Linked DNA regions of Homo sapiens. The protein of the gene in region 1 purifies or fractionates together with the protein of each later gene. This does not show direct contact. Each region holds a gene or a part of one and is shown on either strand. Other genes may lie near its edges. The genes, in order: CBX3, POGZ and CHD4.

Evidence for each region.
Region 2: the proteins of CBX3 (region 1) and POGZ purify together in Homo sapiens (affinity purification with mass spectrometry; 7 studies listed by BioGRID and IntAct, with this or other methods). This does not show direct contact.
Region 3: the proteins of CBX3 (region 1) and CHD4 purify together in Homo sapiens (affinity purification with mass spectrometry; 6 studies listed by BioGRID and IntAct, with this or other methods). This does not show direct contact.

What each region holds. Positions count from the first base shown.
Region 1 is NC_000007.14:26,208,245-26,211,898, forward strand, and holds part of CBX3 (chromobox protein homolog 3), read left to right. Parts: intron 1-148; coding exon 149-311; intron 312-3,417; coding exon 3,418-3,512; intron 3,513-3,654.
Region 2 is NC_000001.11:151,449,412-151,453,065, reverse strand, and holds part of POGZ (pogo transposable element with ZNF domain), read left to right. Parts: intron 1-2,117; exon of another isoform or gene 2,118-2,156; intron 2,157-3,654. UniProt on the Homo sapiens protein: Plays a role in mitotic cell cycle progression and is involved in kinetochore assembly and mitotic sister chromatid cohesion.
Region 3 is NC_000012.12:6,572,981-6,576,533, forward strand, and holds part of CHD4 (chromodomain-helicase-DNA-binding protein 4), read right to left. Parts: intron 290-3,553; coding exon 94-289; coding exon of another isoform or gene 91-93; intron 1-90. UniProt on the Homo sapiens protein: ATP-dependent chromatin-remodeling factor that binds and distorts nucleosomal DNA. Acts as a component of the histone deacetylase NuRD complex which participates in the remodeling of chromatin.

The DNA.
Region 1 (3,654 bases):
GGGTAATGTAGGGAAGGAGGAAATGATTAGTATCTGCAGTACAGAGGACTTTTTATTCCCCCGGGTGTCTATTAAAATAGATCTGGATAATGGTGATGAATCATATTTAATTCAATCACCTTTTTTTTTTTTAATAAACTAAACACAGTGCTGACAATACTTGGGAACCTGAAGAAAATTTAGATTGTCCAGAATTGATTGAAGCGTTTCTTAACTCTCAGAAAGCTGGCAAAGAAAAAGATGGTACAAAAAGAAAATCTTTATCTGACAGTGAATCTGATGACAGCAAATCAAAGAAGAAAAGAGATGCTGTAAGTATAAAATATTGCCCACCAGCTTGTCCTTTTGTAAAAGGTTGATGGCTTGATTTCTTTTTTGTTTGTTTGTTTTTTTGAGATGGAGTCTTGCTCTTGTCGCCCAGGCTGGAGTGCAATGGCATGATCTTGGTCACTGCAACTGCCGCCTCCTGGGTTCAAGCGATTCTCCTGCCTGAGCCTCCCAAGTAGCTGGGATTATAGGTGCCCACCACCACGCCCAGCTAATTTTGGTACTTTTAGTAGAGATGGGGTTTTGCCATGTTGGCCAGGCTGGTCTTGAACTCCTGACCTCATGATCCTCCCGCCTCGGCCTCCCAAAGTGTTGGGATTGTAGGCATGAGCCACCACGCCTGGCCTTTTTTTTTTTTTTTTTTTTTTTTTTTTTTTTTTCCTGGGAGACAGAGTCTCCCTCTGTCACCCAGGCTGGAGTGTAGTGGTGCAGTTTCGGCTCACTGCAACCTCCGCCTCCAGAGTAGCTGGGATTACAAGCGTGTACCACCACACCCAGCTGGTTTTTGTATATTTAGTAGAGACGGGGTTTCACCATGTTGGCCAGACTGATCTCAAACTCCTGACATCAGGTGATCCACCCGCCTCGGCCTCCCAGAGTGCTGGGATTACAGGCGTGAACCACCACACCAAGCCCACCTTTGACGACTTGCTTTTTTAAAATTCAGATACTTTTATAAAAGGCCTCTTAATCGTATTTTAAATATTTTAATACTTAGGACAATAAGGATGGGCGTGGTTTAGCCTACTTTGTGTAAATGTGCAGTAAGTGCTCATGCCACTTAGGTTGTGCTAGTGCAATTTTTCTTAGTTTCATGGATTTGATCCCTGATCAGACCAATTACCTGTGATCCAAGGCTAGCAATCTTAAATACAAACAATACTAAGATTGGATTATCGAAAGCCTTTGCACTACAGTAAGAACAACGCAAATAGAACTTTCTGATTATAGTCCATCAATGGCATTGACCACCGAAAAGTACTTGCATGTCATCTTTGTATTGCCAAACAATACCTTGATTTTGAAGTCTGTAATCTTTGATAATAGTTAAACACTTTTCTTGGCATGAATTGAGACATTCAGTTCATTCACTATACATGTGTTTTGGTCCAGTCTTTGCTTTACTTATGTCTCTGTGGCGTCAGGCAAATCAGGTAACTTCTTACTTACACCCTTGATTGTAAAACAGATTATACTTGTCTTGCCTACTGACCTAGTGTGGCAATTTGGGGAAACATCTTGGTGCTGAATTAGGTTCTAGGCTCAGGCACTAAACATGATTTAAAACTTGATCATTTGAACTAGAAGCCAAGTACAACCTTCAAGACAACTCTGTATAAGGTCATAGGTATAATCACTATTTTACAGATGAGGAAACGAGATTGACTACAAATTTGGTTTTGAAAATAAATCACATGCTCAACAGAAGCAGTTTTGGCCAGGCACGGTGGCTCGCACCTATAATCCCAGCACCTTGGGAAACCAAAGCAGGAACATCGCTTGAGCCCAGGAGTTGGAGGCCAGTTTGGGCAACATAGTGAGACCCCATCTCTACAAAGAAAAAAAAAAGAATCAGCAAGACGTGGTGGACACCTCCTGTAGTCTCAGCTACTTGGGAGGCTGAGGCAGAAGGATTGCTTGAGCCTGGGAGTTCAAGGTGCAGTGAGCTGTGATCATGCCAGTGCACTTTGGCCTAGGCAACGGAGCAAGACCTTGTCTCAAAAAATTATTAAATAATAAATCAGGCACAACTTTAACAACACTTATTGAGTCCTTAGCATGTGCTATACTGTGTGCCAAATTATTTGCTTTTAATGTGCTGTGAAATATCTGTGCAGTAGATACTAAAATTCTGTTTTATTAACCTAAACCACAAAGAGGTTAATTAACTTGCCCAAAGCCACACAGCTCGTAAGTGGGGTAGGTCCATCATTCTCACCCAGGCAGTGTGACTCCAGAGCTTGTGACATTGATGTAAAACTCTGACAGGAATAAAGGATTTATTGATATCATTGGTTCTCAAACTTTTTTTGGTCTCAGGGCCTCTTTATACTCTAAAAAAATTATTGAGGATCCCCAGAGAGCTTTTGTTTATATGGGTTATAATTATCAATACTAACAGTAGAAATTAAAACAAATTTCTAAAATGACTTTTCTAAAAAAGCTGAGAAGAGTAGCATTTTACATTTTTACAGATATTCAACATGTGTCTTAAGGCAATTTTACTTAAACACATTTGATTGCTGTGGCGGATCATTTTGGTGGAGGTATATGAAGACAATCCAAAGTCACAAATAGATGAAAAAAGGGGGCCTTACACAACCCCCTCCCAAAAAGGACTCTGGAATCCCCAGTGAATCCGTAGACCACATTTTGAGAGCCACTGGTTTATATTAAGTACTTTCTAGCGCAGGGGGTCCAATCTTTTGGCAGCCCTGGGCCACATTAGGAGAATTGTCGAGGGCTACACATAAAATAGACTTAATACCAACCATAGCTGATGAGCTAAAAAAAAAAAAAAAAAAAATCGCAAGAAAGTTTCAATGTTTTAAGAAAGTTTACAAATTTGTGTTGGGCCTCCAAAGCCATCCTGGGCCACAGGTTACACAAGTTTGTTCTAACATTTACTATCATTTAGAATGATTACAGATAGTTGGTATGAGTTTTAACATTTTTAATATTTCTTACCGTTTGTGTTTTGTTTATGCTTTTAAAATGTGTCAGTAATTCAGACTAATTCCTGGAAGTCATTTGAAATATATTAACTTTCAAGACTTTATTATTACCAGAAATAAAGAGGTTAGTTTTTCTGTATGCCCACACAACTCTGACTTTGGTGTCATTGAACGCAGTAATTTTCTTGACTTTTTATTCTGAATGTTTTCAGAAATTTTAAGTATTCTACGTTGAGTATCAAACTCAGGTTTTTCTGCTTGTAAAGTTAATGGAAATCAGATGTTTTTAATTACCAAATATGGGTTCTTGCTCTAGTCATTTCCATCTCACTATTGGAATGTTTTTATTTAAAATACGCCATGAAAACAATTTAATACTCTGAGTTTGCTGTATGAAAAAATGTCTTCTAAACAGGCTGACAAACCAAGAGGATTTGCCAGAGGTCTTGATCCTGAAAGAATAATTGGTGCCACAGACAGCAGTGGAGAATTGATGTTTCTCATGAAATGGTGAGTATGCAGAGATTGTTACATTTGAAAGTAAGAGTAGCTTTTTTTTTTTAATTTGTGAAATGGTTTTTCATCATTAGGTAGGGAAAAACTATCTGCTGAGAGGATGATTCTGGTTACTTTTACTAGTAGTGTTTTAAAG
Region 2 (3,654 bases), on another chromosome or scaffold:
ATGTAATCCCAGCTACTCAGGAGGCTGAGGCAGGAAAATCACTTGAACCTGGGAGGTGGAGGTTGCAGTGAGCCAAGATCACTCCAGCCTGGGCAACTGAGCGAGACTCCATCACAAAAAGAAGAAAAAAGAAAAGGGTGAAAGAATTCTACAAGGAACACTTAAACTATCCACCACCTAGACAGAGTGACTTTTTTTTTTTAAGACAGAGTCTCGCTCTGTTGCCTAGACTAGAGTGCAGTGGCACAATCTTGGCTCACTGCAACCTCTGCCTCCCGAATTCAAGCGATTATCCTGCCTCAGCCTTCCGAGTAGCTGGGACTGCAGGCACCAGCCACCACGCATGGCTAATTTTTGTATTTTTAGTAGAGACGGGGTTTCACTGTGTTGGCCAGGCTGGTCTCGAACTCCTGTCCTTGTGATCCGCCTGCATTGGCCTCCCAAAGTGCTGGGATTACAGGCGTGAGCCACTGCGCCTGGTGACAGGATGATTTTTAATGTTTTGGCCCATGCCAAATATTTTTTGAAAGTTGGCATACTAGTATCTATAAGAAAATATCAAAATAGCCCACCTGTAGTGACAACTACTTGGGAGGCTGAGGCAGGAGGATCACCTGAGCCCAGGAGGTTGAGGCTGCAATAAGCCGTGATTGTGCCACTGCACTCCAGCCTGGGGGATAGAATGACACCCTGTCTCAAAAAAAAAAGCCAAATATCTATGTATTTGCTTAACCCCTTGAAAGTCACTTTCAAGATATTTCTATTAAATATTTTGTGCATTTCCTAGGAATAAATACATTCTCCTACATGAATATAATATGATTATCCTTTCTGTTTAAAAATTTTTTAGAGGGATCGGTTCTGTTTCCCAGATTGGTCTTGAACTCCTGACCTTAAGCAATCCTACCACCTTGGCCTGCCACCATGCCCGGCCAACATTGACTTTTTTTTTTTTTTTTTTTTTTTTTGAGACGGAGTCTTGCTCTTGTTGCCCAGGCTGGAGTGCAATTGCACCATCTCGGCTCACTGCAACCTCCACCTCCCGGGTTCAAGCAATTCTCCTGTCTCAGCCTCCTGAGTAGCTGGGATTACAGGTGCCCACCACCACGCCCGGCTAATTTTTGTATTTTTAGTAGAGACTGGGTTTCATCATATTGGTCAGGCTGGTCTCGAACTCCTGATCTGAGGTGATCCACCTGCCTTGGCCTCCCAAAGTGCTGGGATTACAGGCGTGAGCCACCGCGTCCAGCCGAACATTGACATTTTTAAAGAGACTTCTATTAGTTTTATAGAATGTTCCATATTCTGCATTTGATTATTTCCTTCTAGAATGTCCCACCTTCTGGATTTATCTCATTATTTCTTTGTGGTGATACTTAATTTGTTCTTTTATTGCTGTATTTCTTGTAAACGCAAAGTTACATTTAAATAATGGATTTGGGCCAGGCGCGGTGCCTCACACCTGTAATCCCAGCACTTTGGGAGACTGAGGCGGGTGGATCACCTGAGGTCAGGAGTTGAAGACCAGCCTGACCAACATGATGAAACCCCATCTCTACTAAAAGTACAAAATGAGCCAGGCATGGTAACGCATGCCTGTAATTACAGCTCCTTGAGAGGCTGAAGCAAGAGAATCGCTTGCACCCAGGAGGTGAAGGTTGCAGTGAGCTGAGATCGCGCCATTGGGCTCCAGCCTGGGCAACAAGAGTGAAACTCCATCTCAAAAAATTTAAAAAAAAATAAAATAAATAAATAATTGATTTGATTCAGGTTAAATATTATTGTCAGTAATACTTCATACATTGTTTTTGGCTTTTCTTGTGTATTTGTTTGCAAAAAAATGCCATAGACAAAACAGCTGATAACTAATGTGAATTATTAGTCAGTAGTTTATTGGTTAATGTTTTTCTTTTTTCTTTCCCTTTGAGGCAGTCTCCTGTCTCAGCCTCCTGAATAGCTGGGATTACAGGCGTGTGCCACCACACCTGGCTAATTTTTGTATTTTTTTTTTTTAGTAGAGACGGGGTTTCACCACATCTCTGGTCATGGTCATGGCCAGGCTGGTTTTGAACTCCTGACCTCAAGTGATCCACCCACCTCGGCCTCCCAAAGTGCTGGGATTACAGGCGTGAGCCACTGCACCGGTCCTGGCTAAGGTTTTTCTATTTAAACATATTACAATCATAACCTTTGGCTTTTGAGATACAGAGCTACTGTAACTTTTAAGTTCAACCATAAATAAGATTTTTGAGGAAGAACATAGAAATAGGTTTCCATTTTGTCACTTTGAGGCATTGCCCTCTGCAAAAATGATTTGAAAGTTGAAGAAGCTAGAAGAGTTTATATGTAGCAAAAGTAACCTGTAGAGGAATTGTAAAGGGGCCACAACAAGAAAAAATTTAGAACTGGGGAGGCTGGGCACGACTGCTCATGCCTGTAAAACCCAGCACTTTGGGAGACCAAGGCAAGCAGATCACTTGAGTCCTGAAGTTCAAGACCAGCCTGGGCAATATGGCAAAACTCTAGCTTTATAGAAAATACAAAAATTAACCAGGCGTGGTAGCACATGCCTGTAGTCCCAGCTACTTGGGAGGCTGAGACGGGAGGATTGCTTGAGCCCAAGAGGTCGAGGCTGCAGTGAGTTGAGATCGCGCCACTGCACTACAGCCCAGGCGACAAAGACCCTGTGACCTAAAAGTTGTCAGATGAATATGAAGATAAAATCAAGTTCCTGGCTGGGTGCTGTGGCTCATACTTGTAATCCCAGCACTTTGGGGAGGCCAAGGCAGGTGGATCACCTGAGGTCAGGAGTTCAAGACCAGCCTGGCCAATATGGTGAAAACCCATCTCTACTAAAAATACAAAAACTAGCCAGCCGTGGTGGTGGGCACCTGTAGTCCCAGCTACTTGGGAGACTGAAACAGGAGAATTACTTGTACCCGGTAGGCGGAGGTTGCAGTGAGCCGAGATCGTGCCTCTGCGCTGCAGCCTGGGTGACAGAGCAAGACTCCGTCTCAAAAAAAAAAAAAAAAAAAAAAAAAATCAAGTTTCACAGGTAGGTGATTATAGGATGAAACAGACTAGATATATATGGATTTTATAAAAAAATTTTTAACATACAAGATATAACCATTTGAATAATTCATAAGAACCTTGTTCTGCTCTCTTGCAGAGTTTTTGAGACGGAGTCTCGCACTGTCTCCCAGGCTGGAGTGCAGTGGTGCAGTCTGCAAGCTGCATCTCCCAGGTTCATGCCATTCTCCTGCCCCAGCCTCCCGAGTAGCTGGGATTACAGGCGGCCGCCACCACGCCTGGCTAATTTTTTGTATTTTTAATAGAGACGGGGTTTCACCGTGTTAGCCAGGATGGTCTTGATCTCCTGACCTCGTGATCCGCCCACCTCGGCCTCCCAAAGTGCTGGGATTACAGGCGTGAGCCACTGTGCCTGGCCTGAGAGGACAAATATTTTTAAAAAGAAATGATAGTTCTTTATGTATAGAATGTGGGATGATTTTTTTTTAATTGCCCTCGTTTTCAGAACATGTATTCAGTTTGATCAGTGATTTTCAGTCTTGGCACTATTGACATTTAGGGTCGGATAATCTCCAGGCTATCCTATGCATTGTAGGATGTTCTGTAGCACTCCTGGCCACT
Region 3 (3,553 bases), on another chromosome or scaffold:
AGCTCTGAAAGTTTGAAAACAAATATATGTACATTAGGATGCAGTCAGATCAGGGAGGCCGAATCGGCAGGAGGCAGGGGAGCCACTGGCTACCTTTGTGCAGGACTGCATTGGCTGGCTTGTTTCCTGCCATTGACTCCTTGGACAGGTGCTGATGACTTTCCGCCAAACACTCCACCTCAGCAAAGCGGGTGTTGAGGGCCATGGAAGGGTGAGAAGGGTCTTCTGACATGTTCAAGTAAGCAGCCCGGCGCAGCTGTTCCTCAATCACCAGAGCTTGTTCTAAGAGCTGGACAAGGGATAAGAGGAAACGGGAGTTCGACTGATAACTCACTTTACTCACTTCTGACTGGCCTCTCAGCTCACCTCTCATTGTTTCAGATGGTAATAAGAACCTATGAAGAACTTCATGGACAGCTCATTCCCACACCCAAGTAGTTTAACTTTGCCTTGTAACTTTTTTCTTTCCCTTTTTCAATGTCCTCATTTTTAAAACTCTTTACCCTTTAGGTTCTCTTATACAAAAGCGATAAAAACTCAATTTAGAAAATAGAATATCAAAAATTTTTAACAACAGATAATCCCACCTTCTAGAAATACATCCTGATATTTTTCTTTTTAGGTTTTTTTGTGCATAGTTTTTTACATAACTGAGATCATACTATATACATACCCATATTATGTTTTCATTTAGTTACACAGTTAAGCATCTTCCTTTTTATCATCTACTCTTTATCAACTACTCTTCAAAAACATGTTTTGGCTGGGCACGGTGGCTCACACCTGTAATCCCAGCACTTTGGGAGGCTGAGGCGGGCAGATTACTTGAGGTCAGGAGTTCAAGACCAGCCTGGCCAACATGACAAAACCCCGTCTCTACTAAAAACACAAAAATTAGCCAGGTATGGTAGTGCGCACCTGTAACTGCAGCTACTCAAGAGGTTGAGGCAGAAGAATGCTTGAACCCGGGAGGCAAAGGTTGCAGTGAGCCAGGATCGCGCCACTACACTCCAGCCTGAGTGACAGAGGGAAACTGTCTCAAAAAAAAAGGGGTTATTTTGCTATTTAAAAATATTTTTGTTTTTTATTTCCTCTTATCGCCATCTCACTCCCATTCCTCTGAAAAGCAACTTTTCTAATGTAGTAATACTGTGGCTTTTTGTGTAGGTTTTTAAAAACTGTTTCTGTTTCCTATGTATGTTTCTAAGTTACAGAATGATGTTTTCTGTATCTATAAAATGCTTTTTCTTCTCCCACTACATACCTTTTAAAAGGTACTCTTATGTTGTATGCACATGAATTTTGTTGCTTCTGTTGTTTAATGCCCCATGATATGAATACATGTTTCACCTATGCATTCTCCTAATGCTGAACATTTATGTTGCCTCTAGGCCCCCACCACCAAAAATCATACTGCAAAAACACTCATGCACATGTCATCTGATGGAGCTGTATTAAAGATTCTTTGAAATATATCCCAAGAGGCAGAATGTTGGTTCTTAATTTATGAAAAGATTTTAATTACTTAAAAAATATATTCATAAAACATATGACTCAACATAAGAGAAGATTTCTCATACCCTTCTCCTCTCCTAGTGTCAGCCAGCAGTTCTATGCAGATGATTTGATGCTTCTCAAACATGTACCTTCAGCACTGGTTCTGATCCCACTAGTGTATGGTGATGGGGGTCGGTAGTGGGAGGGGTGCTGATTTGTGAGAAATACCAAAAGACTTGTCTAAAATTCGATATCATTCTTTTCTACAAACTGCTCCCTCTCTTCTTAAATGACAATTTAACTTTCTCAGTGACTCAGGCTCAAAATGTTATTTTCAGTCTCACTCATTCTGTACCTCAAATCCAGTAAGTCAGGAGTTGGCAAGCTACAGCCTGTGGGCCAGATCTGCCCCACCACCTGTTTTTATATGGCTCAAGAGCTAAGAATGGGTTTTACATTTTAAAATGGTTGGCAAAAAGTCAAAACAAGACTATTTCATGCCACTTCATGAGAATTATACAAAATTCAAATTGTAATATCCATAGATGAAACGCTGAAACACATCCTAACTTATTCATTTATGTATCCCCTGTGGCTGCTTTCACACAACAAAGATGGAGTTGAGTATATGCAACAGAGACTACATGTCCCACAAAGGGACTATCTGGCCCTTTAATAGAAAAGGTGTGGTTGGGTGCAGTGGCTCACACTTGTAATCCCAGCACTTTGGGAGGACAAGGCGGGCAGATCACCTGAGGTCCAGAATTTGAGACCAGCCTGGCCAATATGGCAAAACCCCATCTCTACTAAAAATACAAAAATTAGTCAGGCATGGTGGTACATGCCTGTAATCCCACCTACTTAGGAGGCTGAGGCAGGAGAATCGGTTGAAGCCAGGAGGCAGAGGGTGCAGTGAGCCAGGAAATGTCGCCACTGCACTCCAGCCTGGGCAACTGAGTAAGACTTTGTCTCAAAAAAAAAAAAAAAAAAAGGGTTTTATTAACCGTTTTTGGTTTGGGGGGAGAAAAAAAGGTTTGCTGACCCCTACAGTAAGTCACTAAGTCCAATAAATTCTTTGGTGTTGTTTCCTTTATCTTTACCCTTTTCATTTTCCACAACCAGCATCACAGCCCAGACCCTTAACACCTCATGATTATATGACAGTTTTATAATCTTATGAATGCTGTTTCCATTTCCCTTGGTCCTATCAAAACTCTGCTCACAAACTTTCAGTGGCTGCCCATTAACGATAGCGTAAAGTCCAAACTCTCTTATCTGGTGCCAAGAACCCACCTACTGACCTCTAGCCCGTCCACCTTTCTCGTTCCAACCTACCTCCCACCATCACCCAACACAAATGTTTCCCTACAGCTCAACTGGGCTATCTGCTATTTCCAGACATACTAAGCTTTGCTGGCTCACATCTTTGCCCAACCTAATCCCTTTGTTCAGATACCCTTCTGTTTCTACCAAAAAAATCTCCGTCGCATTCTTCAAAACTTCATTCCAATGCCATCTTCTCCATAAAGCCATTTGTGAGTTCCGTCCCTACTCCAATTCCCTCTCGAGAACTTTTTTTTTTTTTTAAGACAGGGTCTTGGATGGGCACAGTGGCTCACGCCTGTTATCTCAGCACTTTGGGAGTCCGAGGCGGGCAGAACATGAGGTCAAGAGATCGAGACCATCCTGGCCAACATGCTGAAACCCTGTCTCTACTAAAAATACAAAAATTAGCTGGGCGTGGTGGCACACGCCTGTTGTCCCAGCTACTCGGGAGGCTGAGGCAGGAAAATCGCTTGAACCCGGGAGGCAGAGGTTGCAGTGAGCAGAGATCTTGCCACTGCACTCCAGCCTGGCAACACATCAAGACACTGTCTCAGGAAAAAACAAAACAAAACAGGGTCTCACTCCAATGCCTAGGCTGGAGTGCAATGGCACAATCTAGGCTCATTGCAGCCTCCTAAGTAGCTGGAACTACAGGTGCACGCCACCAGAACTGGCTAATTTTTGTATTTTTTGTAGACATGGGGTTTTGCCATGTTGCCCGAGCTAGTCT